7 linked regions of the Homo sapiens genome follow. The protein of the gene in region 1 purifies or fractionates together with the protein of each later gene. This does not show direct contact. Each region holds a gene or a part of one and is shown in the gene's direction. Other genes may lie near its edges. The genes, in order: SERPINA1, HPX, EDEM3, ANGPTL7, SLC25A13, STATH and DEF8.

Region 1 (4,181 bases):
TGAGCTTTCCTTGAACTGTTGCATTTTAATCCTCACAGCAGCTCAACAAGGTACATACCGTCACCATCCCCATTTTACAGATAGGGAAATTGAGGCTCGGAGCGGTTAAACAACTCACCTGAGGCCTCACAGCCAGTAAGTGGGTTCCCTGGTCTGAATGTGTGTGCTGGAGGATCCTGTGGGTCACTCGCCTGGTAGAGCCCCAAGGTGGAGGCATAAATGGGACTGGTGAATGACAGAAGGGGCAAAAATGCACTCATCCATTCACTCTGCAAGTATCTACGGCACGTACGCCAGCTCCCAAGCAGGTTTGCGGGTTGCACAGCGGGCGATGCAATCTGATTTAGGCTTTTAAAGGGATTGCAATCAAGTGGGGCCCCACTAGCCTCAACCCTGTACCTCCCCTCCCCTCCACCCCCAGCAGTCTCCAAAGGCCTCCAACAACCCCAGAGTGGGGGCCATGTATCCAAAGAAACTCCAAGCTGTATACGGATCACACTGGTTTTCCAGGAGCAAAAACAGAAACAGGCCTGAGGCTGGTCAAAATTGAACCTCCTCCTGCTCTGAGCAGCCTGGGGGGCAGACTAAGCAGAGGGCTGTGCAGACCCACATAAAGAGCCTACTGTGTGCCAGGCACTTCACCCGAGGCACTTCACAAGCATGCTTGGGAATGAAACTTCCAACTCTTTGGGATGCAGGTGAAACAGTTCCTGGTTCAGAGAGGTGAAGCGGCCTGCCTGAGGCAGCACAGCTCTTCTTTACAGATGTGCTTCCCCACCTCTACCCTGTCTCACGGCCCCCCATGCCAGCCTGACGGTTGTGTCTGCCTCAGTCATGCTCCATTTTTCCATCGGGACCATCAAGAGGGTGTTTGTGTCTAAGGCTGACTGGGTAACTTTGGATGAGCGGTCTCTCCGCTCTGAGCCTGTTTCCTCATCTGTCAAATGGGCTCTAACCCACTCTGATCTCCCAGGGCGGCAGTAAGTCTTCAGCATCAGGCATTTTGGGGTGACTCAGTAAATGGTAGATCTTGCTACCAGTGGAACAGCCACTAAGGATTCTGCAGTGAGAGCAGAGGGCCAGCTAAGTGGTACTCTCCCAGAGACTGTCTGACTCACGCCACCCCCTCCACCTTGGACACAGGACGCTGTGGTTTCTGAGCCAGGTACAATGACTCCTTTCGGTAAGTGCAGTGGAAGCTGTACACTGCCCAGGCAAAGCGTCCGGGCAGCGTAGGCGGGCGACTCAGATCCCAGCCAGTGGACTTAGCCCCTGTTTGCTCCTCCGATAACTGGGGTGACCTTGGTTAATATTCACCAGCAGCCTCCCCCGTTGCCCCTCTGGATCCACTGCTTAAATACGGACGAGGACAGGGCCCTGTCTCCTCAGCTTCAGGCACCACCACTGACCTGGGACAGTGAATCGTAAGTATGCCTTTCACTGCGAGAGGTTCTGGAGAGGCTTCTGAGCTCCCCATGGCCCAGGCAGGCAGCAGGTCTGGGGCAGGAGGGGGGTTGTGGAGTGGGTATCCGCCTGCTGAGGTGCAGGGCAGATGGAGAGGCTGCAGCTGAGCTCCTATTTTCATAATAACAGCAGCCATGAGGGTTGTGTCCTGTTTCCCAGTCCTGCCCGGTCCCCCCTCGGTACCTCCTGGTGGATACACTGGTTCCTGTAAGCAGAAGTGGATGAGGGTGTCTAGGTCTGCAGTCCTGGCACCCCAGGATGGGGGACACCAGCCAAGATACAGCAACAGCAACAAAGCGCAGCCATTTCTTTCTGTTTGCACAGCTCCTCTGTCTGTCGGGGGCTCCTGTCTGTTGTCTCCTATAAGCCTCACCACCTCTCCTACTGCTTGGGCATGCATCTTTCTCCCCTTCTATAGATGAGGAGGTTAAGGTCCAGAGAGGGGTGGGGAGGAACGCCGGCTCACATTCTCCATCCCCTCCAGATATGACCAGGAACAGACCTGTGCCAGGCCTCAGCCTTACATCAAAATGGGCCTCCCCATGCACCGTGGACCTCTGGGCCCTCCTGTCCCAGTGGAGGACAGGAAGCTGTGAGGGGCACTGTCACCCAGGGCTCAAGCTGGCATTCCTGAATAATCGCTCTGCACCAGGCCACGGCTAAGCTCAGTGCGTGATTAAGCCTCATAACCCTCCAAGGCAGTTACTAGTGTGATTCCCATTTTACAGATGAGGAAGATGGGGACAGAGAGGTGAATAACTGGCCCCAAATCACACACCATCCATAATTCGGGCTCAGGCACCTGGCTCCAGTCCCCAAACTCTTGAACCTGGCCCTAGTGTCACTGTTTCTCTTGGGTCTCAGGCGCTGGATGGGGAACAGGAAACCTGGGCTGGACTTGAGGCCTCTCTGATGCTCGGTGACTTCAGACAGTTGCTCAACCTCTCTGTTCTCTTGGGCAAAACATGATAACCTTTGACTTCTGTCCCCTCCCCTCACCCCACCCGACCTTGATCTCTGAAGTGTTGGAAGGATTTAATTTTTCCTGCACTGAGTTTTGGAGACAGGTCAAAAAGATGACCAAGGCCAAGGTGGCCAGTTTCCTATAGAACGCCTCTAAAAGACCTGCAGCAATAGCAGCAAGAACTGGTATTCTCGAGAACTTGCTGCGCAGCAGGCACTTCTTGGCATTTTATGTGTATTTAATTTCACAATAGCTCTATGACAAAGTCCACCTTTCTCATCTCCAGGAAACTGAGGTTCAGAGAGGTTAAGTAACTTGTCCAAGGTCACACAGCTAATAGCAAGTTGACGTGGAGCAATCTGGCCTCAGAGCCTTTAATTTTAGCCACAGACTGATGCTCCCCTCTTCATTTAGCCAGGCTGCCTCTGAAGTTTTCTGATTCAAGACTTCTGGCTTCAGCTTTGTACACAGAGATGATTCAATGTCAGGTTTTGGAGTGAAATCTGTTTAATCCCAGACAAAACATTTAGGATTACATCTCAGTTTTGTAAGCAAGTAGCTCTGTGATTTTTAGTGAGTTATTTAATGCTCTTTGGGGCTCAATTTTTCTATCTATAAAATAGGGCTAATAATTTGCACCTTATAGGGTAAGCTTTGAGGACAGATTAGATGATACGGTGCCTGTAAAACACCAGGTGTTAGTAAGTGTGGCAATGATGGTGACGCTGAGGCTGATGTTTGCTTAGCATAGGGTTAGGCAGCTGGCAGGCAGTAAACAGTTGGATAATTTAATGGAAAATTTGCCAAACTCAGATGCTGTTCACTGCTGAGCAGGAGCCCCTTCCTGCTGAAATGGTCCTGGGGAGTGCAGCAGGCTCTCCGGGAAGAAATCTACCATCTCTCGGGCAGGAGCTCAACCTGTGTGCAGGTACAGGGAGGGCTTCCTCACCTGGTGCCCACTCATGCATTACGTCAGTTATTCCTCATCCCTGTCCAAAGGATTCTTTTCTCCATTGTACAGCTATGAAGCTAGTGCTCAAAGAAGTGAAGTCATTTACCCCAGGCCCCCTGCCAGTAAGTGACAGGGCCTGGTCACACTTGGGTTTATTTATTGCCCAGTTCAACAGGTTGTTTGACCATAGGCGAGATTCTCTTCCCTGCACCCTGCCGGGTTGCTCTTGGTCCCTTATTTTATGCTCCCGGGTAGAAATGGTGTGAGATTAGGCAGGGAGTGGCTCGCTTCCCTGTCCCTGGCCCCGCAAAGAGTGCTCCCACCTGCCCCGATCCCAGAAATGTCACCATGAAGCCTTCATTCTTTTGGTTTAAAGCTTGGCCTCAGTGTCCGTACACCATGGGGTACTTGGCCAGATGGCGACTTTCTCCTCTCCAGTCGCCCTCCCAGGCACTAGCTTTTAGGAGTGCAGGGTGCTGCCTCTGATAGAAGGGCCAGGAGAGAGCAGGTTTTGGAGTCCTGATGTTATAAGGAACAGCTTGGGAGGCATAATGAACCCAACATGATGCTTGAGACCAATGTCACAGCCCAATTCTGACATTCATCATCTGAGATCTGAGGACACAGCTGTCTCAGTTCATGATCTGAGTGCTGGGAAAGCCAAGACTTGTTCCAGCTTTGTCACTGACTTGCTGTATAGCCTCAACAAGGCCCTGACCCTCTCTGGGCTTCAAACTCTTCACTGTGAAAGGAGGAAACCAGAGTAGGTGATGTGACACCAGGAAAGATGGATGGGTGTGG
Region 2 (3,500 bases), on another chromosome or scaffold:
TGTGGTGGCATGCACCAGTAGTCCCAGCTGTTCAGGAGGCTGAGGTGGGAGGATTGCTCGAGTGTGGGAGGCAGAGATTGCAGTGAACCGTGACTGTGCCTCTGCAATCCAGCCTGGGTGACAGATTGAGACCCTGTCTCAAAAAACAAATAAATAAAATAAAATAAATATGGTTCCTGAGCAGGGTAATTTCAGTGGGAAACCTCCCAGGGGAGGTGGATATGTCAGTCACCGCTGTATACTCAGTACACGGCTAATAAGAGAACTTGTGGTAGCAGCAAGAACACTAGGTATTTACTCAACAAATATTTGTTGAGCATCTGATAAGAAGTGGGCATTGTCCTAGGCACTGAGATACAGTAGTCAACATGGCAGACAAGATGCCTGCCCTGACAGGCTCTGCTAAAGTGAGAGAGGACAATAAGAAAGAGAAAGGAAGAAAGAGAATAATTTTAGGTAATATTAAGGGTTGTAAAGAAAATAAGACAGGATAGTGGGATAGAGGTGAGGAGAATGAGGGCTGTCTTCTGAAGAAATGATTTTTGAGCTGAGACTTCAGTGATGAGAAGGAATTAACCACACGATGTGCTGGAGGAAAAGCATTTTAGGGAGGGTGAGCAGCACATACTTCAAGGAATCAAGAAGGAAGCCTGGTGAGGCTGGAACACAGAGAAAGAGCAGGTGGGTGACTTGAAAGGGCAGGGACGGCAGTGGCCAGGTTACCTAGACCTGGTAAGGGTTTTCAACCATAAAAGGGAGTCATCAGAAAGTCTTGAGCAGGGCTGTGATATATTCTAACTCATTTTTTATAAAAGATCACTCTGACTTTTTGCAGAACATAAGTTATAAAAGTACAAGCATGTAAGCAAGGAATCCAGCTAGCAATCCGTGCAGTTGTCCAAATTAGAGGTGATGACCGCTTGGACTAGGATGATAGCAGCAGAGGTGGTGAGGAATCACCATGATATATTTTGGAGGTAGAGCTGACAGCATTAACTAATAGCTAAGATAGGCCGGGTGTGGTGGCTTACGCCTGTAATCCTAGCACTTTGGGAGGCCAAGGCGAGTGGATCACCTGAGGTCAGGAGTTCGAGACCAGCTTGACCAACATGGTGAAACCTCGTCTCTACTAAAAATACAAAATTAGCTGGGAATGGTGGCACATGCCTGTAATCTCAGCCTACTTGGGAGGCTGAGGCAGGAGAATCGCTTGAACCTGGGAGGTGAATGTTGCAGTGAGCCGAGATTGCACCATTGCACTCCAGCCTGGGGAACAAGAGTGAAACTCCGTCTCTAAATAAATGAATGAATGAATGATATCAGTCAGAGTAGGGAAGGGAAAAGAGGCTTCAAGAATGACTCAGCTTTCGTGGACTCAGCAACTGAGTGGCTGGTGGTTTTGTTTTCTAAAATTGGGAAAGACTAGGGAGTGTGTGTGTTGGTGGGGGGCAGAAATCAGTTTGGGCATATTAGGTTTTGGGTGCCTATTGGCACCCCATAAGCATGTCAGGTAGGCAGCTGATTTGGAGCCTAAACCTCAAAGGAGAGGTCAGTCAGAGCTGACGAGAACAGATTGGAAGTCATCAGCATATAGATGGCATTTAAAGCCCCTGGACTAGGTGAGATTACCAAGGAAGTGAAGGTAGAGAGAGAAGAGAAGAGGCCCAAAGTAGGGGATTCCAATATTTAGATATCAGGTTGAAGAAAAGAGTAGTCAAAAAAGATAAGAGGAATACTGGGAGAGTCAGGTGTCACAGAAGCCAAGTTCCAAAAAAAGACATTTAAAGGAGAAGGAAGTAGTGAGCAGTCCAGTGCTCCTGAGAGGTAGGGTCAGATGAGAACAGAGAATTGACCATGAGATTTCGCAAATTGGAGAATACTAGCAACCTGGATAAGAACAATTTCAATGGTTGAGGGAAACAGAAGTGTAATTGAAGAGGATTGAGGAAAAAAGACAAATGGGAGCCTAGATAATTCCTTAATAAGTTGTTGTGAAAAGAGGAGAAGAAAAACGGGGTGCTAGCCCAGCTACTCCCTCACTCTTCCACCACCTCATAGGGAGAGACTGGAGAACACAGCCAGAGTGAGAACATTCAGTAGAAGTGGTGCTTCCTTTTTAAGTTCTGGACACTGTATTTCATTATCTATAACCGCATCTCTGTACATGGACACCTGAAATCCTTAGGGAGTGCCCGCCAACCCCATGATGTTGGCCTTACCTGGAAACTTAGCCACTGTTTTCCACACTTGCCTTTCTTTCAGGCACCTGCTGATTCCAGTTTCAGCCAGGGCACAGTGCCCAACATTGCTGACCAAGTCTTGCTCTATTTCTCCTTCTCACCTGGCCTCTTCCATCTTGGCCTCTGGATGCATTCTCTCCCTCTCATGACTCATTTCTGCATTCATCACTAGCCTCTTCTCTGCCTGGGCTTCTGCCAGCGGCCCTAGAGCAACCTATGGTATTCCACAGGGACCCACTACTGGCGTCTGGACACCAGCCGGGATGGCTGGCATAGCTGGCCCATTGCTCATCAGTGGCCCCAGGGTCCTTCAGCAGTGGATGCTGCCTTTTCCTGGGAAGAAAAACTCTATCTGGTCCAGGTGTGTATTGGGGGAGAGGCTTGAGGTAGAGACTGGGACAAGCATATCCAACTCTGTATTTATTACCATCCTTTGTCCTCCAGGGCACCCAGGTATATGTCTTCCTGACAAAGGGAGGCTATACCCTAGTAAGCGGTTATCCGAAGCGGCTGGAGAAGGAAGTCGGGACCCCTCATGGGATTATCCTGGACTCTGTGGATGCGGCCTTTATCTGCCCTGGGTCTTCTCGGCTCCATATCATGGCAGGTGAGGGGCTTCTGGGTGCTTAGAGGGCAGCTTGTTCTGCTACCTGTCTGTGGCATAGATCCCCACCAGGGCATGAGAAGGCCTAGGTCAGGATCCCCAGGGCATGAGAAGGCCTAGGTCAGGATCCCCATGACATGGAAGCCATGCTATGTTTGGTGCCTTCTCCCCAGGACGGCGGCTGTGGTGGCTGGACCTGAAGTCAGGAGCCCAAGCCACGTGGACAGAGCTTCCTTGGCCCCATGAGAAGGTAGACGGAGCCTTGTGTATGGAAAAGTCCCTTGGCCCTAACTCATGTTCCGCCAATGGTCCCGGCTTGTACCTCATCCATGGTCCCAATTTGTACTGCTACAGTGATGTGGAGAAACTGAATGCAGCCAAGGCCCTTCCGCAACCCCAGAATGTGACCAGTCTCCTGGGCTGCACTCACTGAGGGGCCTTCTGACATGAGTCTGGCCTGGCCCCACCTCCTAGTTCCTCATAATAAAGACAGATTGCTTCTTCGCTTCTCACTGAGGGGCCTTCTGACATGAGTCTGGCCTGGCCCCACCTCCCCAGTTTCTCATAATAAAGACAGATTGCTTCTTCACTTGAATCAAGGGACCTTGGTCGTGAAACAATCTTCTTTCTTTGAGTTGAAAAGTTAGCACTTCTCC
Region 3 (3,500 bases), on another chromosome or scaffold:
AGGAATATGCCAGAAAAGCTCTTGATTTTCTCTGGGAAAAAAGACAGCGAAGTAGTAATTTAGTGGGCGTGACTATAAATATTCATACTGGAGATTGGGTACGAAAAGGTATGTAAGTTAGGCTTTTTAAATCAAGCCTTTGCATCCTCAAAATGGTTGGGAAATAAAGAATTTTCATTTGTTAAAATAATCTTTGGGATACTATAAAGCATAGGTTCTCACAAGATTGCTGGAATTTTAATTAATTTAGCCAGATTTTCTTTTTTGATGCCAAATGTGACACACTTCTTCTACATGATTTAGTATTCTATTTCTTAATGGATATAGCATTATAGGTATAGGGTGTAGATGAAACGCTATAATTTATTTGAAAACTAGAGAACCAGATTTCTGCAGCCATCTCACGTCAAGGTGTGGTTTAGTAAGAATATGGGTTTAATAAATTCTTTTTTTCTCCTACCTCCAGAAATATAGTAGCTAAGAGCATAGACTCTGGGGTCATGTTGTTGGATTCAAGCTATGTGATCTTGGGAAACTTATTTAACCTCTGTGTGCCTCTCTATTCCATATCTGTAAAGTGGGCATATTAATAGTAATTAGTTGTTCTGTATGAGGATTAAATGAGTTAACCAAAGTAAAGTGCTTAGAACAGTGCCGGGCATGTACTACACTTACTATGAAGTAAGTGCCCAGTAACGAGATGTTAGTCCTTTTGATTAATAATTTTACTTCTGGGAATCTAGTCTGAGGAATAATACAAAACATAGAAAATTATTTGTTCCCAAGATGTTCCCATGCAATTATTTATAAATAGCAGAAAATTGGGAAACAGTCTAACCATCAGTAAAAAAAGCTAAGAAAATTATTTTACATCAGCGTTGGAATATTGTTATTAAAATAAATCAGGAGCATGGGAAGGAACATGTAACAATGTTATATGAACAAACAGGATATTGAATTGTACAAAGAACTGTGATTTTATCTTTATAAAACACCCTGATAAGCATAGATGAATGGAAATAAATTAGAATATTCTTAATGAAAGCATCTTTTTTATACATTTTCTCTATTTCTAAAAAGCTTATCTTGTTTATATGTAAAATAAATGGTAACTGCCTATATTTAAATAAATAAAAATTATAAAATTATTAATTCAAACATATTAAAATTATTACCTTTATTCAGTATTGTATAAAATTTTTCTGTGTCATCTAAATGACAGAAAAGAACTTTTGACTCTTCACAGTCAGTTATTTCAGTAATTCAGGGTGATACTGAGGAAGCTAAGAAATGACTAGATTTACCAGAACATTTGAAACTCAAGACAATTTCTTCCAAGTTCCTAAAAGCAAAATATTGAATGGCCACTGATGAAAAGTCATCTTGTGTATTCATTCACTGTTTTCTAGTATTTCACTGCTTATAACTGTCTGGTCTCATCTTGGTTATAGTTTAAAAATCAAATATTTTCCTACATCTGTGAATTAAATAGTACAGTGTGGTTACCATATCATACTTCAGCTGTTAAATTAAATCCATTATGTCATAACACTAAAAAGACTCATTTAAAAATGAAGATTTAAAATAACATAATATGTTGATTTAAATGTACCACTAGAAAAATGTTGTGTCTTACAATAGAAATGAAATGTATATAAATATGGGTAAAAAGACGAGTCACTAGTTTGAGATGAGAACTATTATTTTCATGGTAACGTACCAGCATGTATGTGCTTGTATAGCATACACATAAACAGAGAAGGCTTAATGCATTTATAATGCAAATACAAATGCATTAAATAGAAGTTTGATAGTGTATTATAAACCTAAGAGGAAAAATCCAGACTTGTATTTTTGATATTTTGTGCATCAACATATTGCTACAAACATGAAAACTGTGAAATTTTTAAAATCATTTCCTTGCAGTCATAGCATTGTACCATCTTCATTTTTGTCTAGAGTTGGTTCAGTTCTAAGTGGTCTAGACTCCACCTGCCTATCATTTTTTTTTTACTGGTTAAGACAGTAAAATAGGTGTTTTTTTGAATCTATAGGTTTCATTTTTGTGTTAGATAACATTTCTTCTTTTTAAGAGTAGATATTATTATTGTTCTTTAATTTTTCTTGACTTTGGTTCTTTTTTCCTTTTTAGGAAAAAGCAAAACAAGAGACTTCATCTTTAGATTTCCTCAAGATTTAAGTGAATTTACTATTCATTTATACATACCAATTTCTTAAAGAACACAAGATGCTTATTTTCCACCTAGTGAAACTAAGAGCTAATTAAACTATGAACTAGTTAGCAAATTATTTATTTTAAATATAATTATCTGTTCCAGGGCAAATCTAAACTGGTGTAGTCATATATATGCACAATGTTAATTTAATGCTAATCTAAGGAGTGCTATTTTTTTAAAAAAATTTAACGGTTTTAAAAAAATTTAATGAAAAATCACATTTGTGTTTCCATAGATAGTGGAGTTGGAGCAGGGATTGATTCATATTATGAATATCTGTTGAAAGCCTATGTCTTGCTTGGAGATGACAGTTTTCTGGAAAGATTTAACACAGTAAGTTGATACAATTTTATATTTTATAATCAACTTCATTTGAGTCCAGATTTTTATAGAAACTCCATTACCTGAATGACATTGTAAAAATAATTTTTAAAATGTGTAGTGGTTTTGTGTCAGTATTTCCTGATGATGTTGAACAGGGACAGCGTAAAAAGTGATATACATTCCAAAAAATCAGTTGATAAAGTAGTTTTATTTTCACCTTTTATCAGAAACTTTGCAGATCTGCCAATAAGAGATGTAATAGATTTGAGTTTTACCTAATCTTGTTTGTACAAGGATAAGAATTATTGAAATATGTTACTAGTTAGCTTTTTCCTTTGTATTTCAATTCTTTTTGAAATCTTGGAAGTTTGGCTTAGTCTTTGATTACACCAAGGATACAGGGCTTTGAAGACCTGGAGAAACTAGTGAGTATTCATTTCAAAAGCAAGTCTTAAGACTGGTTCAGAACCACAAGCATGTTTTTTTGGGAAAAGTGGGAGGATTATTGAACCCAATTGAATCACCTTTTTAACTGAAGCAAACTGAAATGAATATAGCAAACTCATCAGTTATATCACTATATTCTTTTTAAACTAATCTACCATTTCCTTGCTCACCTATCAGTTCATCCATGTTGTATGTATGAGACAGTATGACATGGTGATTAAAAGTATGGAGGAGAATGGCGTGAACCCGGGAGGCGGAGCTTGCAGTGAGTCGAGATCGCGCCACTGCACTCCAGCCTGGGCGACAGAGCGAAACTCCGTCTCAAAAAAAAAAAAAAAAAAGTATGGGAGATGTACTGGTTTAAATTCTGATTGTACCACCTACGGGTTTTGTGACTTTGGGCAAGTAACTAATATTATTTGCCTCTGTTTCTCATCTACAGAATGGGAGTACTAGTACTATTTATAGGGTTATTGGGAGGATTGAGTTTAT
Region 4 (4,042 bases), on another chromosome or scaffold:
TGTGGGAAGGACCCACGCTGACTACAACAGTACAAGTAACTGCCTGAGTGGCTCCATAACATGGAAACAGCAATCGTATGTTCCAAAGACAGAGTTACTGTTTTAAGGACAGAGGAACCTTTGTATAGATTCTTAGTGAAAAGCTTATTTTAAGGATGTTTGCTGAAACTCCATGTTTTTCACATTTCTTTTCAAAAGAGCATTGTCCTTCATATATAGTACATGAAAAATTACAATATTCATGTTTTTTAGATACAAAGTCATATACAAATAGAGGAGGAATAATTTCAAATTGCAAACCATACCAGCAAAGAAAGAGGGAAATGAGACTCTAGATATGGATTTATTAGGTGACAGGGATTCTTTTCTCTATATTTTAATATATTTTCCAAGTTTTGAACCACGGGCTAAGGATGGGCCTGTTCTCTGTCCTGCCTAGAAACTGACAGAAGCATGGGTGACCAATCCCAGACATGCTTGGCACTGCTGAGTTTTCATCTCTGTTGTAATCTTCTGACACCTCCTTGCAAAATATCAAGTGTTATATGCTAATACTGGCCCTCTCTTTGTTGAAGGAGAAAGCATGTAAAAAGACAACTGTCCAAACCCTGTGGCTACAAAGTCTTTTTTTGGCTTCCTAAGAGATTTACTCTATTCTTCTATTTCTAGAACTTTTCTAAGTTGGAAGATTTCAAATGTGAGATAGTGTTAGATCCAGGTTGAGTAAGGATTTTATAAAATACTAAATAATGATCAGAGATGGGAATAATCAGCCTAGATAAAAGCATATTCAGCAGGATGTCAAAATATACCAGATCCTCATATAAACAGCATGGATTACATTAACAGGCCTCCCTGGGTGAGTAGCGTCTCTTTCGCCTACCTTACGCTCACCCCATGGTTATATAACCTTTTGAACGGAATTTGGAAATTCTTCTGACCCTGTCCTGCTTGCTGATAGAGTTGAGCCAGTGGCTGGCAGGGGCATAATCTAATAGGCGAAACTGGAAACACACAAATTCACAGTCCTCTTGTCTTAGCCCAGAGACTGTACAGGCAAGGAAAGAAAGACTCGCCCCATCTCCCTCCTCCCCTCCTCTGGCCTAAGTTGCCGCTGACTTCACCCAACAGGCACCTGACCCTCCCAGATGAGCTGGGAGGGGCTAAAGCCTGGTGCAGCCATGGTAGGGGTGGAGGTACAGGCAGCAAACAATATTTAAGATGCTGACTTGTGGAGCATTCGGGCTTGGAAGGAAAGCTATAGGCTACCCATTCAGCTCCCCTGTCAGAGACTCAAGCTTTGAGAAAGGCTAGCAAAGAGCAAGGAAAGAGAGAAAACAACAAAGTGGCGAGGCCCTCAGAGTGAAAGCGTAAGGTTCAGTCAGCCTGCTGCAGCTTTGCAGACCTCAGCTGGGCATCTCCAGACTCCCCTGAAGGAAGAGCCTTCCTCACCCAAACCCACAAAAGATGCTGAAAAAGCCTCTCTCAGCTGTGACCTGGCTCTGCATTTTCATCGTGGCCTTTGTCAGCCACCCAGCGTGGCTGCAGAAGCTCTCTAAGCACAAGACACCAGCACAGCCACAGCTCAAAGCGGCCAACTGCTGTGAGGAGGTGAAGGAGCTCAAGGCCCAAGTTGCCAACCTTAGCAGCCTGCTGAGTGAACTGAACAAGAAGCAGGAGAGGGACTGGGTCAGCGTGGTCATGCAGGTGATGGAGCTGGAGAGCAACAGCAAGCGCATGGAGTCGCGGCTCACAGATGCTGAGAGCAAGTACTCCGAGATGAACAACCAAATTGACATCATGCAGCTGCAGGCAGCACAGACGGTCACTCAGACCTCCGCAGGTAAGGAGACCAGTCCCCTGAGGGAGCGTGGAGTGCCTCCCCATCTACAGCACTGCTTCTACATATCCTGGTCATCAGAACCACTACTGGGGCCTCTTTTGTGGGTACACTTTCCCTTTAGTAAAGGCTTATGCAGTATTTCCTTTGACTTCTAATGCTATGTAAGTTTACCTAACACCTTCACGGGTCTCTTTTATCCACACAGTGTTTCAGCCTACCATCTTGGAGTGCTGAGATACTACATGGTTTGCCCAAAGTCACCCAGCAAGTCTTAGAAGCAGGGTTCAAGTCTTCCTGATTGGTGTAGCTCTGCTACTTCCTCACCAAGAGCTGACAGGCTATATCTCAAGAAATTCCAAGGAAGCACCAAACTGTAACAGCTGTTCCTCTGGAAGCAAAGTTTTGCCAGAAACAGTTCTCTGGTGTTCCTAAGATTTACCAGGAATGAGCATTAATGGAATTTTGTGTCCTCTCTCTGTAAACGTAACTCTTCTCATTGGCTCAGAGTTAAGTGTAGAGACACATAACCATGTGAAGAGTCCCTTTGTGTTCAGGAAGGATGCGGCTCCTTAAGGTTCCTCAATTGTGATACGTCTATTTTTTTCCATGGTCTTAAATGAATTTCTCCGAATACAGGATTTTTTAAATGCAATGCTGAAATATAGACTTAATAGGCCAAAAATAAGATAAATTTAATCTTTCTTTTGCAAAATAACTTTTATTTCTGGTTAGCTCAGCTCAGGTGGGCCAACATGAATTTACGGTTTAGAGATAAAAATTTGGTTTTCTGAAATTATCAGGAAAATATTAGTTGTAAGGAGCATATCCTATAGACATGTCATTTCTTGCTGATATAAAAACCATTGGTCCCATTATAAACTACATGAAGAACAAAGACATGATCAGCTTCTACTGACTAAGTCAATGGTTAACCTCAGCTCAAATTAAGAAAAAGTTTTAACATGAAACCAAGCTTGAAAATTCTGTTACCTGAACCAACATGTATCAATCACTTTCTAAGCATGGACTTCCGGGCCCTCAGTTTGGGATTAGAAAGGTATTCTCAGGCCATTTTCCAGACAAGTGAGTCCTGATTTGGTCTGTGAGATGAAACCAGACATGCGGAAGACCAGGCCAGACAGAGGAATCTGACCGTGCCACTTCCTGCTCATCCAAACAGGAGGCTTTCTCACCATCCTGCAAGGAGGTTCTTGGGGTCAAGTGCAGCTCTCCCACCAGGTCTCTTGCTCTTCTTGCCCAGGACATCATTCCTTATTTTTCTTCTCTATGACCAAGTGCTCAGTTACCCTTATATTCTATAAGTAGGTAGTCCCTTAGAGGAAGCAGTAAGTTGGTGCTTTCACCACTAAGACGAAATGAAGAATAGTGATGGCGAAGGCACACGTACTCTACCTCCCTTTCCCAAGGTGCTCTGCAAGAGAACCTATGTGCCTCAGACAACTCCCATCTGCCATCTTGGTGCTCCTCTCTAAGGTCCCAGTGCAGTGGTCACCAAGAAAAGCACCCCGAGACATAGCAGGCAGGAAGCTTCTCTTGGATAGTAAGGGCCGCAGTCTCTGAATCCTATCAGAAAAGGCTGTCTCTTCCACTATGCTCTTTGATATTTAGAATACAGAGCTTAAATCCTGCATAAAGTAGCAGCTCCATGGCCCTAGAGTAAAAAAACTGGCCAGTCTGATGCTCTCATTTCATTGTTTTAACAAAACTTCTGGGAGGAAGGCCTCAAAGGTTCTTCTGAGTGTTTTGAGGTGCTAGCTGGATGGAAGGGGAAAATATGTGATAATAAAATCTATCTCCCTTAATTATGGTCTCAGGTGGCAGTAGCCACCATCTCTGAACAACAACAAAAACAACCAACCAGGAAACATCAACAAAACCAGACTCTATGAGATATTCACGACTGATTTGTTATAGTGGCGGCTGTCTAAGAAGTCTGAATCTATCTGACAGGAGTATCTGTTACGTGGCCCTCATACACTGTAACATTTCTAGAATTCATGGCCCAGCTATAGCAGAATAATTTATTTCAGAGTTAACCTGAAACCACCTGTTGGAACGTCCCACTAATGCTATCCAGGTGAAGGGCTTCCCTACCCCTCTGCTCCACCGCTAGTAAAGCCAAAATACACCCCCTCTGGATCTCCCCATATCCACCTCTCCCAAATGCAGACACTGATG
Region 5 (3,500 bases), on another chromosome or scaffold:
GCCGTTTCAGTTCTTTTATCTGTAAGATGAGAGTGACTGCTTTTAACTTCTCAGAGGAGTAGTAAGTCAATATATTAGGTACAGACAGAGGCTCACTGTAAACACCCAAGTGGCAGCTCTTCACCCTTTTCCTGGTTTAGAAATGGCCATTTATCTTTGGGTGCCCCAACCTTAAGGGCAAGAGACAGAGCTGTCTGTCAGGATGATGAGTAGAGTGTGAATATAAGATTAGTTCTAGGAGTCACCTGTGTTCATTTCTTCCTGATATCTTTTCTGGTAAACCATTTTAAAACAAAAAATTTACTGTAAAATTTTTGTTTAGTCCCATTCTGTAATTTGGATCATCTTGAGAGCAAAATGATGACTGACAGTTCAGGTTAAAATAATAATGATACATAACTTTGCCATGAAAATGACTTGTTCCTATTCTTGATTGGTCAGGGATCAGTTCTCTTTAGTTTCTTGTACATCATCAATAATTAATAATTGTATATAACTGCATATTTGTAAGTGCTTATTGGGTAAGAGAGATCAGATGAAAATGTAGGTAACTCATGGTTATTGTTGTTAATTTAAAAAATTACAATATAAGTAAAAAAGACCTGACATATTTCTGAGACTCAGTATTATCACCTTTATGTACAAAGTCACATTATGAAATACCTATATGTGATTCTTTGTACATTTCTCATAAAATGTAACTTTATTTTAAAATTATATTATTCCAGAGGAAAACTGTTACGTTTAAATTAGGAAAATATAGTATTGCTGCTATTAATGCTTTCACCTAGCAATATTTGAGAAGGTATCAGAGTACATCTTTAATTCATACATGTTTTTAAATATTGAGCATAGTTTTTAGTATTACAGAATTTTGCTCAACATGTAATTTTTCTCTATCAAGGCCTATGTAATTGCTCATATTTCCTGAATGAGATAATTTGGGAATGTTGCAGTTGTAAGATCTTTCTCCTACTTTAAAATTACCTTTGTGTATACTTTGAAAAAAGTTGGCATCTGGCCTCAAAGAAGGTGTTTTTGTAGCATGCGATCTTATTATGAGGTTAATAAATATCTCTTTTTCTTATAACAAGAATATCAGAAGCTGTTTTTGCATTTAAAAGCCTTTCCCTGTGGCATTAGAATGAAGGTTATTTTAAAAGAACTCTTGTAGTGCTCCACCACAAGTTTTGTTCTTTGCCTCCCCCGCAGCTGGCTGCATCAGAATAGTTGTGGAAGTTGCTTGGTAGTCATGAGAGAGTGCCTAGCAGTGCTCTTCAATAGAAATATACCTCAGAGAGTCATGAGAGGTGTTGTGAGTTGGTTAATTCCTGCTCTCCATGTATTGGTATAACTCCGTTTTCTTTATTTCCAGGAGCCTCTCTCCTATTTTTGTGTAAGTTTTAGTTGCTGGAAAAGAGCTCCTTAAAAATCCCATGAGTCTGGCTCTGCAAACCTTCTCTACAGTGCAAACTACTTTTTTCCTAACAAGAAAATGGCAAATTTTCCTAGTTTGTTGTTGTTGTTGTTGTTGTTATTTCTGAAAATCCAACCCCCAGGCCAAGCCTGTCTGTATTAAGGGAAATCACACCTGAGATAATCCAGGTCTTCCTGAAGTCACTTTTAAAATTCTTTCTCTGTTTCCTCCCCAGTCTTCAGAGTGATTTAATGTGCTCAGGTATTTGAAATCCTTAATGAATTACCTGACAACTTGTTTGGTTTGAATGACTGGCATAACCAAATGAATCAGTCATTGGCCTGCTATAGATCTGGCGTATTAAAGAACAACAATTGATTGGGTAATCATCCATAATTAAATGCTCTTAATGTTCCAGGAATAAATAATTTCTGCTTTTAAACTTTGTTGCAGTCTTCTCTCTCAGATCTTTCAGGTGATGAGATGAGCAGCCTTAGACACTGGAAAATGTTTTGGGAGAATCTTGGGGAAAAAGATGTATTAAGAGAAATATGGCCGGGTACGGTGGCTTATGCCTGTAATCCCAGCACTTTGGGAGACCGAGGCGGGTGGATCACCTGAGGTCAGGAGTTCAAGACCAGCCTGGCCAACATGGCCAAACTCTGTCTCTACTAAAAATACAAAAATTGGCTGGGCATAATGGCGGGCCTGTAATCGCAGCTACAGGCTGAGGCAGGAGAATCGCTTGAACCCAGGAGGATGCAGTGATCTGAGATTGTGCCGCTGCATTCCTGCCTGGGAGACAAGAGTGAAACTCTGTCTCAATTTAGAAAAAAAAAGAGATAGAAATCAGGGTCTATCAGAAATACTTCTTAGACGAAAATTTTTGTTTCTATTGATGGGAGAAGCCCTAAAGAAAATCTCCCAGAAAGAGTAATTAGATCATTTTATGAATTAAACTTAATTTAAGCAGTGCTTAACCTTTGAGGAAATTGGCAAAAAAAAAACCACATTTTTTAATCAGCCCATTGATCCAAGCTTGCAGAGTTGTAAATATTTCTATTTCAAGTTGTCTGTGTAGTGCAAAGCAGTCATCTTCCATCCTGGAATGTTCTCAAGGTGACATCTAGAGGATGTTGTGGTGATATCTCAGGGAGTTATTGATACTTTTATATTGCAGAGGGAAGTTTTGGCAGGCAGCTAGTTTAAGCCAGGTCCCTTATCATTGATGGTACTATAAAAGGGAGTATCCAGATTCTTTAGAATCACAGTGAGATTCTTCATTCTTGCATAATTCATGGGGATAAAATAAACTTTAAAATTCTGGCACCAAAATAAAATGATTGAAATTTCCATGACTGTTTTGCATTACTTAAGAACACATGCATCTTGAAACAAACCATAGTTAATCTGTGAACTGCACTCATGTCCATCCATGTCCACCAAAACTTTTAATGATTGCAAAATGGATAGGTTTGAGTCTTTATTTTCTTGGCCAATTTCTGCACGTTTTCATTTAGAGCATTAAGCTATAAAAATATCAGAAGACATGTATTTGGTTATAGGAAGCCACATAAGAATGAGCAGAAGATTTCAACAGATCATTTGTTGGGTTAGCCAATCTCCAGAAATCTACAGTGAGCTAACTTTAGTGAGCACAGGGCATTGTAATCTGAGACTGAGGCGACACACACTGGATCTAAGGTGGGTGAGAGAATTGTTAGAGACTTGAGAGTGCTACAGTAACAACTGATGACCTTAGAAAATTGGAAAAATATGACAAAAAGATAGACGTGTAGGTATCCTAGAGAAGAGGTTAATGAATGAATTAGTTCCACACCTCAAAAATGATAATTTATAACCAGCTACTGTTGCTGAGACTAAAACAAGGGAGATAGATTAAACCTCAGTAGGAGGGAAATAGTTTAGATAGAAGAAAAGATAACCAGGATCCTGAACGTTCTCATGTACTATGGTGAAAAACTGCAGGAGTATCTGATCGTTTTCCCCAATTCTCTTTACTTCTAGAAAGCCCCAGAATAGAGGAGTTGAGGAACTGATTTTTTTCCAGACCATAATCATA
Region 6 (4,240 bases), on another chromosome or scaffold:
AGAATAAGAATAATATCTATCTAATTTAATTTGAATTATTTATTTGCCTTAAGAAATGATTTATATTTTCTTGTATATTACCCAGAGAGTAATCATAATTTCCAGTAAGGCTGTTCCAATACAGCATAAAAATTTACCTAATAAATACTTCCTTAAAAAATCTGATACAAAATTAAACCACAAATTATCTTTACTGGTTAAAGCCTAAGGATAACTAATGCATTCAAGAGACAAATATGTGGTTGTTTTTTTTTTTATGTTTTTGTGGAGATACGGGTCTCACTATGTTGCCTAGGCTATTCTTGAACTTCTATGCTCAAGCAATCCTCCTGCCTCGGCCTCCCAAAGTGCTGGGATTACAGACATGAGCCACTGAGACCAGCCTTGTTTCAAACTTCACAGTACCCAAAGAATCACCTGGAGATAATGTTAAAATGCAAACGCCTTAGGACAACCCCAAGATTCTGACTCAGCAAGTTTGCGAAGGTGGACTAAGAATTTACATTTCCACAGGCTCCAGCTGATGCTGTCTGTGATGTTCCCATATGGCACACTCTGAGGAACAATGCACTAGGCTGTATAACTTACCTCAACTTTATATATAAGTTTTTGATATTCGTTTCTTAGTACATTGAGTTATCCAACCAGCAGTGAGTAGGGTAATTTTTACACAAATTTTCCTAGGAATGTAATGAAAACATTTTTTCCTTCACTCTAGTGTAATCATGTCAACACATGGCTGCTATGGAAAAATATGTAGCCTTAAAAACTCCAGGAAATTAAATTGAATTTCCAAATACATATATTCAGTCATATGTGAGATATGTATCAGTGAGCACTTAGAGTCATTTCACCATAAATATAATAATTTTTTATCATATAGTACCCAAAAGATTACTGAATTTGGCAAATGTTTACGTTCACTTTGTAACTTAAAATATTCTAAAGTCAATAGAAGATGGTAAAAGTATGAGATAAATAATGATTTGAAGAAAAACTCTTGAAGTATATGAAGACTGTAATTTTATTATGCCAGTTACCACGAGTTATCAGAGAACATGTAAAATCTTGATAACATGGTAAGTATTATTTGTGTCATAGAGTTGTTCCACCTTGGACACATACTTGTGGAAACATCTTTATCACTGCAATTATTTCTATGCCTGGTTTCCTCCAGCATGCTTTTCTGTCATCTGACTCACTCAGCGCTAGACTAACAGTGGGATTAACATGCAGTGGGTACAGTTGTTTCCTGGTTACTTTGTCTTCACAATCATCTATTGCAAAATCACTTTGTTACGGTTATTTTTATCATTTGTAGAGACAGATTTTGGGCATTACTTTTAGTTTCCATAATGTGATCTCATAATTGCCATTATTTAACAAAAACAAATGGGGGACTTCAGAGTGTTTAAATACATTGGCCCTCTAGGGTAGCACATCATCTCTTGAAGCTTCACTTCAACTTCACTACTTCTGTAGTCTCATCTTGAGTAAAAGGTAATATGTTCATGTATAATCGAATATGTTGTCTTAATCTAGAGTGTTGCTTCCTAAAATCTTTTGAAAACTAATTATAAAAATGTGTATTTATGTAATGATAATTTCTCATAAAGAAACAATTGAGAGAAATGATGACCTTCTTAGGATCTGAAGGTAAGTTGAGAATCTGAATAACTATACATTGAAATCAGCAATCATCATGCAAAGTAAATAATGTGGAATATGGAGACATATTCCAACTTCTCTCCTGATGGAACTTCTGAAAAGCTTTTTATTTCCTTGTCTACGTACTGGCATCTACTCTGCTACTTACTACTTTTACCTTTATTCGAAGTTCATATTTTAAGAAAATAGCATACGTTCTCTTTTTTGCAAATGTATATATTGTTTCACAAGTTTAACTTTTAAAAATTTACTTTTTTCCCATAAGTAAACATTTCTCACTACCTTTTCATTGACCTTTCCATCATTTTAAACAGTTATGTCATTCTGCATAATAAAAAATGTTGTATAACAGTCATGCTTTACTGCCTTACTGTTTTATATTACTTAAGTTGTTTTCATTCAGTTGTGATATGGCAGAAAACAAAGATTTTACTATTTCATATTTTTATTATTTTTCATTGGGGAAATATTTTTTTAAAACCATGACATATATATTTATATATCTATGTCTATATATCCATCTTTCAGTTTATCAAGGTTAGTAAAACAAAACTACTCTTCTATGAGCATTTTTTGATTCCATACTTTCAATAAAATTTACAGGTATAAAATACACTAAAGTTTTTATGCTTTTTGCATCATAAAATGACTGATGGGTAGGTTTATCTATCAGGTGATAGAAAAACCCCAAAGTACATATTATTTTTACACTTACTCTAATACCAGAAATTTCCTTTTTTTTTTTTTTTTTTTTTTAATTTGAGACAGAGTTTCGCTCTTGTTGCCCAGGCTGGAGTGCAATGGTGCAATCTCGGCTCACCGCAACCTCCACCTCCCGGGCTCAAGTGATTCTCCTGCCTCAGCTTCCTAAGTAGCTGGGATTATAGGCACTCACCACCATGCCCAGCTAAATTTTTATTATTATTATTTTTAGTAGAGACGGGGTTTCTCCATGTTGGTCAGGCTGGTCTTGAACTCCTGACCACAGGTGATCTGCCCACCTTGGCCTTCCAAAGTGCTGTGATTACAGGCATGAGCCACCACACCCGGCCAGAAATTTCAGTTTGAATAACTGAGGCAAATCAGTGAATAAGTAACAAAGCAAATGCCATAAATCATGAGTTCTGCTTTATGTTTTGGAGATTTGGGGTTATTAATAACAGTAATTTTTTTTATAATTAGGTAAAAAATATTCTTGTAATGTTTTATCACAAGTTATTGGTAAAAGAGATTAAAATAATGAAGACCATTACCTTTATATGAATTACTCTATAGTTTTCAATAAACAGGTAAAAATGTCATTTATTTGTAACTCTTGTGGCAATTATGTGTTTCACTGAAAATGTCTTTATTTAGATGTTTATAATTTACAAATAAATAATCTAACGTTTTTTGTTTAATAACAAAGGAACTGGGTTAACTGGCTTATACTGTTTATGATAACATATCACAGTCCCAGATAAGGTTAATTTTGTTGAATGAGATTATTTAAAATATTAAGTCATCTTCACCAATTCAACTTCTCAGAGGAGGTACGAATATTTTCTCTGTGACTTCTTATCAGTTTGATTGTTCTCTACCCAGTATCATTAATGTTCTAATCTGAAGGTGACCCCATTTTTGCAACTCTCAAGACAGAAATCTGGCTCATTTTCAGTAACATTATAAAGCGATTGCCCATTGCTGGTCATTCTAACATCCAAACATCTCTTTACACTGTACCTTAAATATCATCCCTAATGTCATTATTTAAGGCGCCCCATAATATCCAGTTCTATCTTCCCTACATTTTGAACTGTTCCAGTTTTATCTTCTGATAAACTGCTCCAGTTTTATCTTCCCTACATTTTGAACTGTTTGCACTTTCAATATGGTATCCTCCCTCTTTTTCATTTTCTTGCAGTCACCCAACACCTCTTTACTCATCCTGCATAATCCAACTCAAGCTTTACTTTCTTCTTTACCTTCATACCCCTATTCTCTTGGTCTGTGTAAGGTGTTGATTTGTGTGTTACTCTAATGCCTTAGCATTTCCATATCAATACACTCACTTTTACTTATCAGTGTCTCCAACAAGTCTCCAAGTTTCATGATGTCAGGCAATGGGTTTTAATTGTCTTTCTATCTGGAGTGTGTCTCCCAGTGCTTTGGAGCGTAGTATAATCAATAAACTTTTGATGGGCGAATGCAAGAAAAAATGTGATACTGAATTTCCACATATGTTTTCAGAGAACCCAGCCAACTATGAAGTTCCTTGTCTTTGCCTTCATCTTGGCTCTCATGGTTTCCATGATTGTAAGTATATCAGGACATTTGAAGAATATGTTCTCAGTACCTATCCCAAGAGTCTCTCTATTCCTTGTGTTCTGGCATATATTGGTGTTTACTTGAATACAGCTTTATATGTTTAAATGTTTCCATATGAACTTTTTTTTGTACTAACCTACATAAGCTATATAAGGATTTAGAATAAATAGTCATTATTCATCTACAGACACTAAAGTATATTTAGCTTAGTGTGAAATAAAAGAAAGTTTTACTGAACTTCTTAAATATGTGGAACTGAGAGCTT
Region 7 (3,500 bases), on another chromosome or scaffold:
CTGAAGAGGGGCAGCCCCTACCTTTAAGGACAATTCTCAGAAGTCTTTTCTTTTTTCTCATATGTATGTATACACACACACACATATATATGTATATACACACACATACATATTTATGTAAAAAAGATTTTTTTTTTTTTTGATATGGAGTCTCGCTCTGTTGCCCAGGCTGGAGTGCAGTGGTGCGTTCTCGGCTCACTGCAAGCTCCGCTTCCTGGGTTCACGCTATTCTGCTGCCTCAGCCTCCCGAGTAGCTGGGGCTACAGGCGCCTGCCACCACACCTGGCTAATTTTTTGTATTTCTAGTAGAGACAGGGTTTCAATGTGTTAGCCAGGATGGTTTCGATCTCCTGACCTGGTGATCCGCCCGCCTCGGCCTCCCAATGTGCTGGGATTACAGGCGTGAGCCACGGCGCCCAGCCCATATTTGTATAAAATTTAATAGAGATAGGGCCTCATTGCATTGGGCCTGGCCGGATGCCGTCCTCCTGCCTTGGCCTTCCAGAGTGCTGGGATTATAGGTGTGAGCTACCACGCCCGGCCCATTACTGTTGTTTTCAGATAGCCCTGATTTAGTCTCTGGTTCTCCCTTTTCTTGCCTATAAATCAGGGAGAACACGTACTTCCTGGGGTGGATGGAAGGGCTAAGCACTTGGGTATGTCAGTGAAGCCAGGAGCCCAGAGCTGCTCAGATCTGCCTGATCTTCTCAAGCCGAGGGGGTCAGAACAGTCACTTTACCAGGTCTAGCTGCTGGGGAGGCTGGGAAATTATGTGACAAACAAAAATGAGGCTCCTCATTCAGGAAGAAGGAGGAGTGATGTTGGGATGGCCTGATTTCTCCTGTGTCCTGGGTGCTCCCTGGGAGACTGGGGAGGTGCTGGCATCGGGTGGCCGCCTCTGACTCTGTGACCCACCCACAGTCATCAGGTAATAAGAGAAGGAGGTGGGACTGGGGCCCACTCACGTTCCCTGTGTCTTCCCCGTGCCTCCCTGTTGGGGTCCACGGGCAGCCTGTCCATGGGTGCTTTGTCCTTTCAGGCTGGCGTGCAGGTGCCCAACCCACACTCCTGCCCCACAGGCACAACAGGCAGGACAGGCCCCATAGGTGGTGTGGAGTCTTGCCCAGTTGCAGGGCAGCCATGTGGGGTTGGGGTGGCCTCCTTATCCCACTGCCAGTGAGGCAATTAGTTCAAATCCCAGTTCTTCCAGGCCACAGTGTGACCCTGAGCAGGGCCGTCCCCTCTGGGCTCAGCTCTCTTTCTTTTGGGAGAAGAGACAGAGGATAAATCATAGGATTGATTATTATAATTGTGAATTATTTCAGACTGTAGCAGGTGTAGTGAAAGCATAACTAACACTGTAGCAGGTGTAGTGAAAGCATAACTAACACTGTTGCAGTTACTGAACAACTTTAAAAAGACATCTCCGACTTTCTATAACATCAACAGACCTTACAGCGAGCTTACTTTGTGCTCAGTCTCTGTTAACTCATTTCACCCTCACAATGGCCCATTACGGATGGGGAAATGGAGGCAGAGAGGCTAAGGAATGTGGCCCAGGAAGTTAAGTGGGAGGGCTGGATGCCAACTGCCTCTACTCCCACCCCAACCAAAGTCCCTTCCTCCCTGCCAGGAGCCATCAGCCCTGTGTGTTCTGCAGTGTTCTGAGCCTCCGGGTGGGGAAAGAGCAATTCTTGATCCTGAGCTTCTGCCACGTGGAGAACTAGGCCCTTCCGGCCTGTTTCCTGGGTTCCTGAGGCACAGAGCCGTGGGCCTGGTTCAGGTCGTGTTGCTCATCACAGGATCAGAACCCAGGCCAGAGAGCCTGGATGCATTTGTAGGGGGCTTCTCTGTGTGCTGGCAGGGAATCCTCCCAAGATCCCCTGCTCCTGGGCATGGGGAAGGTGGGCCCTGCTCACTCACCTGTGGCAGAGCAGGAATGGGCCCTGGAACTGTCCCCAAGTGTCCAACCCTAAGTCCTGAGACAGGGGCTGTGGTTTCAGGGTGCTCTGACAAGAAAGCACCTTTGCTTGGGGCCCAGGAAGGAGGAACCCATTTCTGAGAGGTGTGTCTCACATAGCAGGTGGATAGCAAGCTAGAGCGGGGCTGAGTGAGTATCTGGGGCTGAGGCCCAGAGAGGATCCCATAGGTAGCTCTAGGGCTGGAGCTCTGCAACATTGGGCAAGAGGACCCTGTGCTGGGAGGCAGGGAGCTTGGGCCCCTCAGATGGGCCACGTGCCCTCGTGGGACCCTCATTGTCACCGTGAGCTCTTTCCAAGGGGACGCCACCAGTGGGGGCCTGGGCAGGAGGCAGCTGAGGTGTTTCAGGAAAAGGCTGAAGATCAAGGCTGTGGTGTGAGGACTACCCACTTTAGGGAAGTGAAAGAGGCCAGCCTCACCCCAGACACCCCAGTGTGGTTGGGGAAAGGGGGTGGTCCGTGGTGAGCCTGGTACCTGGGGACTCATCCTGGCCCTGCCTGGCCCTCAGGTGGGATGCTATGGAATATGATGAGAAGCTGGCCCGTTTCCGGCAGGCCCACCTCAACCCCTTCAACAAGCAGTCTGGGCCGAGACAGCATGAGCAGGGCCCTGGGGAGGAGGTCCCGGACGTCACTCCTGAAGGTGGGTGCTGGTGGGAGTCAGGGTGGGAGCTGGGCAGGTCTCTGACTGCTTACGTGGACCCCTCCTTTCTTCCTGCCGCGTCCTGCGCAGCCCTGGCTTTCCCACGGAGCCGGCACCTGCTGGCTGTGTTCTTTTTCCCATCTCTTCTGTGGTCGTGTGGTTTGTTTCTGTGTCCCCACTAGAATTCACATTCCTGAGGGCAAGATTTGTGCCTGACCCATCACTGCTGCATCCTAGGGCCCAGCACATAGTAGGTGCTCAGGGAACACTTGCTGAGTGCGGTCAGCGCTGAGACCTGGTAAGGGAGAGGTTAGCCGAGGGAACGTGCTCTGGGCGTCAGGGTGGCATGAGCTTTAGAAACTGCAGATGAGGTCATCAGGGAGTGCTTGGAGCGGGGCAGCTGCAGAGACGGCCTGGAGTCGACACTGGGGTTCGTGGATTTTGCTGTGTAGCCATGCAGTGGTTTTTCTCTCGCCCCCGTGGTCACGCATGAGGTGTCCACCTTAGAAATGGGATGTCTCTATAATGCTGTCTTGAGGACTTTTGGCACCGAGTGTCATTCCACCTCCTCATTTTGAGTGGCTCTTTCCTGTCTACACAAGGCTGTGGGCTCCTCTGTGAATGCAGACTGGACGGTGTGCAGATCTGAGTGGTGCCCAGCTCTCACGGTGCCTCCTTTCTGTGCGGCTTCCTGAATCCCTTTCCCACTCCTGGCTATCTCAGCTCCTCCCTAGGGGATGGGAGGCAGGAGGTAGCAGCTGACGCTCCACACCTGTCCCCGTCTTCCTCCAGAGGCCCTGCCTGAGCTGCCCCCTGGGGAGCCGGAATTCCGCTGCCCTGAACGCGTGATGGATCTCGGCCTGTCTGAGGACCACTTC

The links.
Region 2: the proteins of SERPINA1 (region 1) and HPX purify together in Homo sapiens (affinity purification with mass spectrometry, with the first as the bait; one large-scale study listed by BioGRID). This does not show direct contact.
Region 3: the proteins of SERPINA1 (region 1) and EDEM3 purify together in Homo sapiens (affinity purification with western blotting, with the first as the bait; one study listed by BioGRID). This does not show direct contact.
Region 4: the proteins of SERPINA1 (region 1) and ANGPTL7 purify together in Homo sapiens (co-immunoprecipitation; one large-scale study listed by IntAct). This does not show direct contact.
Region 5: the proteins of SERPINA1 (region 1) and SLC25A13 purify together in Homo sapiens (co-immunoprecipitation; one large-scale study listed by IntAct). This does not show direct contact.
Region 6: the proteins of SERPINA1 (region 1) and STATH purify together in Homo sapiens (affinity purification with mass spectrometry, with the first as the bait; one large-scale study listed by BioGRID). This does not show direct contact.
Region 7: the proteins of SERPINA1 (region 1) and DEF8 purify together in Homo sapiens (co-immunoprecipitation; one large-scale study listed by IntAct). This does not show direct contact.

The regions. Positions count from the first base shown.
Region 1 is NC_000014.9:94,385,803-94,389,983, reverse strand, and holds the start of SERPINA1 (alpha-1-antitrypsin precursor), read left to right. Parts: upstream 1-1,381; 5' UTR 1,382-1,424; intron 1,425-4,181.
Region 2 is NC_000011.10:6,430,988-6,434,487, reverse strand, and holds the end of HPX (hemopexin precursor), read left to right. Parts: intron 1-2,470; coding exon 2,471-2,601; intron 2,602-2,684; coding exon 2,685-2,847; intron 2,848-3,017; coding exon 3,018-3,277; 3' UTR 3,278-3,439; downstream 3,440-3,500. UniProt on the Homo sapiens protein: Binds heme and transports it to the liver for breakdown and iron recovery, after which the free hemopexin returns to the circulation.
Region 3 is NC_000001.11:184,720,359-184,723,858, reverse strand, and holds part of EDEM3 (ER degradation-enhancing alpha-mannosidase-like protein 3 isoform 2 precursor), read left to right. Parts: intron 1-2; coding exon 3-108; intron 109-2,472; coding exon 2,473-2,570; intron 2,571-3,500. UniProt on the Homo sapiens protein: Involved in endoplasmic reticulum-associated degradation (ERAD). Accelerates the glycoprotein ERAD by proteasomes, by catalyzing mannose trimming from Man8GlcNAc2 to Man7GlcNAc2 in the N-glycans.
Region 4 is NC_000001.11:11,188,113-11,192,154, forward strand, and holds the start of ANGPTL7 (angiopoietin-related protein 7 precursor), read left to right. Parts: upstream 1-1,242; 5' UTR 1,243-1,467; coding exon 1,468-1,843; intron 1,844-4,042. UniProt on the Homo sapiens protein: Has a role in the formation and organization of the extracellular matrix.
Region 5 is NC_000007.14:96,179,099-96,182,598, reverse strand, and holds part of SLC25A13 (electrogenic aspartate/glutamate antiporter SLC25A13, mitochondrial), read left to right. Parts: intron 1-3,500. UniProt on the Homo sapiens protein: Mitochondrial electrogenic aspartate/glutamate antiporter that favors efflux of aspartate and entry of glutamate and proton within the mitochondria as part of the malate-aspartate shuttle.
Region 6 is NC_000004.12:69,994,526-69,998,765, forward strand, and holds the start of STATH (statherin isoform a precursor), read left to right. Parts: upstream 1-1,440; 5' UTR 1,441-1,500; intron 1,501-3,897; 5' UTR 3,898-3,912; coding exon 3,913-3,963; intron 3,964-4,240. UniProt on the Homo sapiens protein: Salivary protein that stabilizes saliva supersaturated with calcium salts by inhibiting the precipitation of calcium phosphate salts. It also modulates hydroxyapatite crystal formation on the tooth surface.
Region 7 is NC_000016.10:89,951,755-89,955,254, forward strand, and holds part of DEF8 (differentially expressed in FDCP 8 homolog), read left to right. Parts: exon of another isoform or gene 1-928; intron 929-1,622; exon of another isoform or gene 1,623-1,766; intron 1,767-2,488; coding exon of another isoform or gene 2,489-2,498; coding exon 2,499-2,622; intron 2,623-3,414; coding exon 3,415-3,500. UniProt on the Homo sapiens protein: Positively regulates lysosome peripheral distribution and ruffled border formation in osteoclasts. Involved in bone resorption.